3 separate regions of the Homo sapiens genome follow, and regions 2 and 3 are each linked to region 1. Evidence: fine-mapped expression QTL. A gene starts in region 1. Each other region holds a variant in brackets. All regions are shown on one strand. Distances are from middle to middle. Region 1 holds the start of NFKB1 (nuclear factor kappa B subunit 1). Region 2 overlaps NFKB1 (nuclear factor kappa B subunit 1). Region 3 overlaps NFKB1-AS1 (NFKB1 antisense RNA 1).

Region 1 (2,759 bases):
GTATCCAGGTAGGTAATTTATTTTCTCTCTCAAATGCCAGGCCCCGGAGGATCAGAATCAAGTCCTATAGCAGGTGACTATATCGTGTGTGTGTGTGTGTGTGTGTGTGTGTGTGTGTGTGCGCGCGCGCGCGCGCACGGAGGGGGGGAGGGGGGAGAGAGAGAGAGACAGAGAGCGAGCCAGGTTTCTTTTAGAAGTAGGAGAGGGATGAATAGACTCTCCTATTCAATTCTGGGGAGCTGGGGAGGGCTTTCCCAGCCAAGAGGACTGACAAGCACTTCTGCTTTCATTTCATGGAACGCCCTTAGGTGAAATCTGGTTCTGCACTGCACCAACCACCTTCCCTCTCTCCTCCGCGCCGCAGCGCACTCCAACCTTCTCACCATCCCCCAGGTGGGGCTGGGGTTGGGGATTTTAAAAGTTTGTAAGAGTTCCCCTCCGGTTCGCGTTCCCGCCCCGCGGAGGGACGTGAAGAGAAATGACCGCCGGGCGGCCGCGGCCCTTCGGCCGACTAGCCCCTGCGAGGTCCGGATGTGTCTTTCCCCGCTGTCGCTAATCCCATGTGCCTCTCAGCTACTGTCAACCTCCTCCCACGGTCTAGCCCAGCGGTTAGCGCAGGAATGAGGAAGTCCGAGTGGGGCTGGAGGGGGTGCGGAGGGCTGGGCGGCAGGACTTGGGCCACGCGTCCCCTGCCGGGCCCCCACTCGCCCGAGTTTGGCTTACCCGGGTGGCGAGTCCGCGTTCGGCCTCCTGGCGCGGGTGGGCTCTCCCTCCTAAGCGGCGCGGGCCTGCCGGCTGGAGAAGGAAGAGGCGGCGGCAGGCCGGAGCCCGGGCGGGCCCGAGTGCGGGTCGGGGCGAGCGGGAGCGCGGCGGGGCCGGGCCAGGCCAGTCAGCGCCGCGCCATGGCCGCAGCGCGGGCGGAGGGAAGCGCAGGGCGCGCGGTGGCCGGGCGGCGGCGCCGCCTTACTGGCCGGGCGGCTGCGGCCTCGGCGGCGCTGGGCTCCGGGAGCGGGGCCGGTGGCTGCGTGCAGGCCGAGGGCTGCGGCGGCTGGCGGCCCGACCGACGGGAAGGGCAGGGGAAGCTGTCAGCGCGTCGCCGGGCCGCTCCGGTGGCGAAACCTCCTCTTCCTGCCCCGGCTCGCTGGTGCACTTCTCTCTCTTTCTGTCTCGCTCACTCTCTCACTTCCTGGCTGGAAATTCCCACTGACGTCGAGAGAGCATACAGACAGACGGACACACGCGCGCACGCAGCGGGGGCGGGAGGTAGGGTCGCTGCCGGGGGTGGGGGAAGCCCGCACTTCTAGGGGCGCTGTGCGCCCCCGGCCCGGCCTTGCCGCTCGCCTCGGCTCCCGCCCCTCGGGGCCGCTTCGGGGCGCCGGGCGAGGGGCGCGCGTTAGGCGGCCTGGACGCCGCGGCCCCTGCGGGGCTCTGGCTTCCTAGCAGGGCGCTCCCGAATCCCAAGGGCTGGAGCCGGTAGGGAAGCCCCCAGGAAGCGCCTGCCGGGCCCAATCAATGGTCGGGGAACGCAGGCAGCACGGAGGCGGCGGCGGTGGCAGTGCCGCTGATAGAGTCATGCGGTCCATAGCCCCTAAGGGCAGGCCCGAGCAGCTGGAGGGTCGGCATGGATCCAAGCATGCCAGATATAAAAATAAAGCTCATCTGTATATTCCATTTAAGCGTGTCTCAGTTACATTCACATCTCTTCACAGATTAAACTACAATTTCGTTATCATAAACGACTTGTGCCCAGTAAAGTATAACCCTCTACTGGTTTTTGGTGCGGTCTTAAATCTCCTGGTTATAGAGCAGTTACTCAGAATGTTCATCTACAAGGCATTGTTAGGCCTTTATGATAATTACTGTGGATAGAATTATAGTGATGGTGGTAGCAATGGTTTTGGTTCACAGCTCATAAAATACTGATCTGGCAGAGGGGAGTTTTCTTTTTCTCTGAAGAGACCGCTACTGGCACCCACTGACAGGCCTCCCAGTGGCCACCATTCACTGGCATCTGAGCTGCTTTAGTGCTGGGCACTGTATTAGGTACAGGCTGGGGATACCTTCGGGTGGATTACCTCCCCACATAAGAAAGCTTGAGCCGAAATATATATTTTAGAGCTCATTGTTTCACTACTGGGTGGAGTGACAACTGAAAGCTTAGCTTTAAAACATCAGTAATCAGGTCCTCACCAGGCAATATTGCAGTGGCATTTAGATTGCTTATGGCATGTTCATCCTAGTCCTTTCGTGCCCACTCTCCATCCTCCTCCTCCAGTAGGTTATAAAAACCTTCTTGGTGGAGTGTTTTTCTGGAAAAAAAAAATAAACAAAAAAAACCCACACACACAAAAACCCAGCGATCCATTTGATTGCCTATGAGGTGAGTCTCCGAGGCGACCTTGGAGGCCCCAACAGTCGACCTTTAAGTGATCTCATTTAGCTCCGGGAGGCTGAGCAGCTGGAATTTAGAGGATCCATAAAGACTGAACACAATGACTTTTTAAGAAATTCTGTGAGCCGGGTGCGGTGGCTCACACCTGTAATCCCAGCACTTTGGGAGGCCAAGGCGGGTGGATCCCCTGAGGTCAGGAGTTTGAGACCAGCCTGACCAATATGGTGAAACCCCATCTCTACTAACAATACAAAAAAATTAGCCGGGCGTGGTGGCGGGCGCCTGTAATCCCAGCTACTCCAGAGGCTGAGGCAGGAGAATCGCTTGAACCCTGGAGGCAGAGGTTGCAGTGAGCCAAGATTGCGCC
Region 2 (2,759 bases), 27 kb before region 1:
AATCTAGTGGGTGTGTTAAGCTGAATAACGACCCCCTAAACATGTCTGCATCCTAATCCTCAGAAACTGTGAGTGCTACCTTATATGACAAAAGGAAATTTACGTATGTCATTAAGGTAATGATAATAAGATGAAGAGAGTGTCTTGAATTGTCCAGGTGGGCCTGATGAGAGGGGTTCAGGAAATCACACTGAATAGTAGGAAGTATGACAAAGGAAGCAAGAGGCTGGAGTGATGAGAGGGTGCACAGGGAAAGCAGGCAGCCACTAGAAGCTCAAAAGGCAAAGAGATGAGAGCTGCAAGAAGGAAAGCAGCCCTGCCAACACCTTGATTCTAGATTTCTGAGCTCCTGACTCAGAAGTATAAATTTGTGTTGTTTTAAGCCCCAAGTATGTGGTAATGTGTTAGGGCAGCAACAGAGTGGGCATGCAGAATATTTTGAAGAAAGTACATTTTATCTTAATAAATTACTATTCATTACTTATCAAAAAACATTGTAACCGCTGGCTCATTTAGGACTTTAAAACTGTATTTCTGAGCTTGCTATTTATTTTAGCCTAAAGAAGTTATATGTTTGAAATGTCTGTGGACAGCATGGAAACCAGCCATATTTTACTTTTTATGAGAGACTAGTAAGTGTGCTGAACTAGCTTTTCGTTTCTTTTAGTAGCCAGTATTACAGTTTGTCTCCTGCCCTTAGTAGTAAATTATTGAAAGTTCTGGGGTACTGAAGATCTTCGTATGCCTAGTTAAATTAAGAGTAAGAAAAATCTCGTTTAAATAAACAGTACTTCAGATCCATTTGAGGGATGCAAATTTTCAACTGAGGAACAAAGAATGCGCTTCACTTCAATGCTTATAAGATTAAAAGCTCACTGATGCTATTCATTGTTTGCTGAAAAGGAAATACAGGAATGAAAAACCATGTTCTGCAAAAATGGGCCTCATTTCATACAGGATTTTAACAGTCTCAGAGCAAACGTGATAACCTAGCAGGAAAACTCTTTCCTGTGGTGGCTAAATGACTGGCGAGTGGGCAAAAGGGCTCACCTTAGGAGAGAGATATACTCTTCACTTCAGACTAAGAGAGAAGTTGTGTTGTGCTGCAGCTTGCATTGTTTATTAGGTCAGGGTGGAGAGCAAATTCCAGACTCCACTAAAACACTGAGGACATGCAAACTTTAGGAAATATAAACCACCAAGCTCAAGCCAAGAAAGAAAAAAACTTCAAGACCGCTTGCCTCAAAAA[T/C]GGAAATGTCAGAATATGCCCCACCCCTGTTACTGATGATCGCAAAGATGCCCACATAAGAAAAACTTTCAAAATGAATGTTTTCAGCAGATTTTACTCTTCTGTGGCATAAAGAATCATCTCTTGTTGATAAGATTTCCTGTGTACAGACAGGAAAGGATGGTTTAAAATCAAGCAGACACAATCCTCATGCTGGTTAGTTCGCCCTTAATTGTTAGAGAAAGCACAATAAAAGCGAAAGGTAAAACAAACGGTTTTGATAATACAATTAGCCAAATGTCTTTGCTGCAATAAAAGAAAATGTTCCTAGATTTATCCTAAATCACCATTTTAAAAATAAAATTAGAAAGGAGCATCTTAATGTGAAAAGCAATGCAGTCATTCTTTCTAAATCAATCAGAATATCACCCGAAGTGATAAATGCTATATATGTCCATTTTATTTATAGAAATGATACCAGAGCCTTTAAAACATATTCCACTTCTGTTTTTATTTTTCTGGCTGATTCTTTGCACGTGTAATTTCAGAAATCCACTATTTTAAATGATTTCCACTAAAATTTAAATGTGACCAGGCTATCCTGGCACCTAGTGTTCCTTCACCTTTTCTAGTCTAGCAAACTACATCTTTCAAAACACAGCTTACGAAGACTTCCTTCGGAAAGTCCTCCGTAACTCTGCTCTTCCTCCAAGGTAGCACCTAGTGATGCTGCTTATTAACATTTCTATCCCGCTCTGCGCAGACTACTACTACAGCATATATCACCATATGAAAACAATGTCTCTGTTCTTCCTATTAAAATAGTAGGTTCCTGAAATTAGAGTGTATATATCACTTATTTTTTCCCCACTAAGCCAATGTTCTGGCACGTAGTAATACCTCAATAAATAGCTGATGAATGAACAAATCTCCATGTTTTAAATACTTCTTGGAATCATTACATAAATAATTTAATATTGCCATTATAATTGCTCCAGAGTCTGAAAATTGCTTCCAAATGATTATGTATATACATATACATATATACATATATACACACACACACACACACGAAAAAGAGAGCAAAGAGAAAAGCGAAAATGTCGGTTTTAAGAACCAATGTAGATTTGTTAGATTATTCCAACATTTCTATTTATTTTTTCCAACATTTTTCAAAATAAAATATAGGAGAAAAAGAAAAAAGGACACTGCTATCCTTTCATAACTACTAATATAATGATAGGAACAGTTTTATGCTTACAAAGCACATTCATTGAATATTTTTGACTCATCCCTGTTAGTGTGGTGCTAGCATTTCTATTTTACAAATGAGAAAAGTGAGGATTACGGGGACTAAGTGATTCTTCAAGTCTGAGGAGCTGATCTGTAGTAGTCAGTACTTATATAAAGATCTTCAAATTCTGAGTTCAAAGATCTTTTCACTACAACAATCTGTCTCCTTACTAGATGAGTTTTAAATAAAATTTTTTTTTGGTATAAATTGATGGGGTACAAGTGCAATTTTGTTACA
Region 3 (2,759 bases), 21 kb after region 1:
TTGGTTGGTAAGCTATTAATTATTGCCTCAATTTCAGAAACTGTTATTGTACTATTCAGAGATTCAAATTCTTCCTGGTTTAGTTTTGGGAGGGTGTATGTGTCCAGGAATTTATCCATTTCTTCTAGATTTTCTAGTTTATTTGCATAGAAATGTTTATAGTATTCTCTGATGCTAGTTTGTATTTCTGCAGGATTGGTGTTGATATCCCTTTATCATTTTTTATTGCGTCTATTTGATTCTTCTCTCTTTTCTTCTTTATTAGTCTTGCTAGTGGTCTATCAATTTTGTAGATCTTTTCAAAAAACCAAATCCTGGATTCATTGATTTTTTGAAGGGCTTTTTGTGTCTCTATCTCCTTGAGTTCTGCTCTGATCTTAGTTATTTCTTGCCTTCTGCTAGCTTTTGAATGTGTTTGCTCTTGCTTCTCTAGTTCTTTTAATTATGATGTAAGGGTATTGGTTTTAGATCTTTCACACTTTCTCTTGTGGGCATTTAGTGCTCTATATTTCCTTCTACACACTGCTTTAAATGTGTCCCAGAGATTCTGGTACTTTGTGTCTTTGTTGTCATTGTCATTGGTTTCAAAGAACATTTTTATTTCTGCCTTCATTTCATTATTTACCCAGTAGTCATTCAGGAGCAAGTTGTTCAGCTTCCATGTAGTTGTGTGGTTTTGAGTGAGTTTCTTAATCCTGAGTTCTAATTTGATTGCACTGTGGTCTGAGAGACAGTTTGTTGTGATTTCTGTTCTTTTATATTTGCTGAGGAGTGCTTTACTTCCAATTATGTGGTCAATTTTAGAATAAGTGCGATGTGGTGCTGAGAAGTATGTATATTCTGTTGATTTGGGGTGGAGAGTTCTGCAGATGGCTATTAGGTATGCTTGGTGCAGAGCTGAGTTCAAGTGCTGGATATCCTTGTTAACCTTCTGTCTTGCTGATCTGTCTAATATTGACAGTGGGGTGTTAAAGCCTCCCATTATTATTGTGTCGGAGTCTAAATCTCTTTGTAGGTCTCTAAGGACTTGCTTTTTGAATGTGGGTGCTCCTGTATTGGGTGCATGTATATTTAGGATAGTTAGCTCTTATTGAATTGCTCCCTTTACCATTATGTAATGGCCTTCTTTGTCTCTTTTGATCTTTGTTGGTTTAAAGTCTCTTTTATCAGAGACTAGGATTGCAACCCCTGCTTTTTTTTTGCTTTCCATTTGCTTGGTAGATCTTCCTCCATCCCTTTATTTTGAGCCTATGTGTGTCTCTGCACGTGAGATGGGTTTCCTAAATACAGCACAATGATGGGTCTTGACTCTATCCAATTTGCCAGTCTGTGTCTTTTAATTGGAGAATTTAGCCCATTTACATTTAAGGTTAATATTGTTATGTGTGAATTTGATCCTGTCATTATGATGCTAGCTGGTTATTTTGCCCATTAATTGATACAGTTTCTTCCTAGCATCAGTAGTCTTTACAATTTGTCATGTTTTTGCAGTGGCTGGTACTGTTTGTTTCTTTCTATGTTTAGCGCTTCCTTCAGGAGCTCTTATAAGGCAGGCCTGGTGGTGACAAAATGTCTCAGCATTTGCTTGTCTGTAAAGCATTTTATTTCTCCTTCACTTATGAGGCTTAGTTTGGCTGGATATGAAATTCTGGGTTGAAAATTCTTTTCTTTAAGAATGTTGAATATTGGCTCCCACTCTCTTCT[C/G]GCTTGTAGGGTTTCTGCCAAGATATCTGCTGTTAGTCTGATGGGCTTCCCTTTGTAGGTAACCTGACCTTTCTCTCTGGCTGCCCTTAACATTTTTTCCTTCATTTCAACCTTAGTGAATCTTACAATTATGTGTCTTGGGGTTGCTCTTCTCGAGGAGTATCTTTGTGGTGTTCTCTGTGTTTCCTGAATTTGAATGTTGGCCTGCCTTGCTAGGTTGGGGAAGTTCTCCTGGATCATGTCCTGAAGAATGTTTTTTAACTTTGTTCCATTCTCCCCATCACTTTCAGGTACACCAATCAAATGTAGATTTGGTCTTTTCACATAGTCCCATATTTCTTGGACACTTTGTTCATTTCTTTTTACTCTTTTTTCTCTAACCTTGTCTTCTCGCTTTATTTCATTAATTTGATCTTCAGTCACTGACACCCTTTCTTCCACTTGATTGAATCAGCTATTGAAGCTTGTGCATGCCTCATGAAGTTCTTATGCCATGGGTTTTCAGCTCCATCAGGTCATTTAAGGTTTTCTCTACACTGTTTATTCTAGTTAGCCGTTCATCTAACCTTTTTTTCAAGGTTTTTAGCTTCCTTGCAATGGGTTCAAACATGCTCCTTTAGTTCGGAGAAGTTTATTATTACCAACCTTCTGAAGCCTACTTCTGTCAACTTGTCAAAGTCATTCTCAGTCCAGCTTTGTTCTGTTGCTGGCGAGGAGCTGCAATCCTTTGGAGGAGAAGAGGCGCTCTGATTTTTAGAATTTTCAGCTTTTCTGCTCTGTTTTCTCCCCATCTTTGTTGTTTTATCTACCTTTGGTCTTTGACGTTGGTGACCTACAGATGGGGTTTCGGTGTAGATGTCCTTTTTGTTGATGTTGATGCTATTCCTTTCTGTTGTTAGTTTTCCTTCTAACAGTCAGGTTGCTCAGCTGCAGGTCTGTTGGAGTTTGCTGGAGGTCCACTGCAGACCCTGTTTGCCTGGGTGTCACCAGTGGAAACTGCAGAACAGCAAATAATGCAGAACAGCAAATATTGCTGCCTGATCCTTCCTCTGGAA

The links.
Region 2: its variant is fine-mapped to the expression of NFKB1 in whole blood (INTERVAL, PIP above 0.99). The same link has a PIP of 0.9 or more in CD4 T cells.
Region 3: its variant is fine-mapped to the expression of NFKB1 in whole blood (INTERVAL, PIP above 0.99).

Annotation. Positions count from the first base shown.
Region 1 is chr4:102,499,753-102,502,511 of GRCh38, reverse strand. It overlaps NFKB1 (nuclear factor kappa B subunit 1), which reads right to left and starts at 1,153. Exons shown (of 24, transcript NM_003998.4): 1 at 724-1,153. NFKB1-AS1 (NFKB1 antisense RNA 1) reads left to right here and starts at 26. Exons shown (of 5, transcript NR_136202.1): 1 at 26-73. RefSeq lists an enhancer at 474-523 and silencers at 634-1,203, 1,214-1,473.
Region 2 is chr4:102,526,465-102,529,223 of GRCh38, reverse strand. The region is part of intron 2 of NFKB1 (nuclear factor kappa B subunit 1); the gene reads right to left. Among named protein-coding and RNA genes, the nearest start is that of NFKB1-AS1, 25 kb to the right of the region's middle. The variant T/C (reference allele first, on the strand shown) is at 1,250.
Region 3 is chr4:102,478,662-102,481,420 of GRCh38, reverse strand. All of the region lies in intron 1 of NFKB1-AS1 (NFKB1 antisense RNA 1), which reads left to right. Among named protein-coding and RNA genes, the nearest start is that of NFKB1, 21 kb to the left of the region's middle. RefSeq lists an enhancer at 2,484-2,759. The variant C/G (reference allele first, on the strand shown) is at 1,705.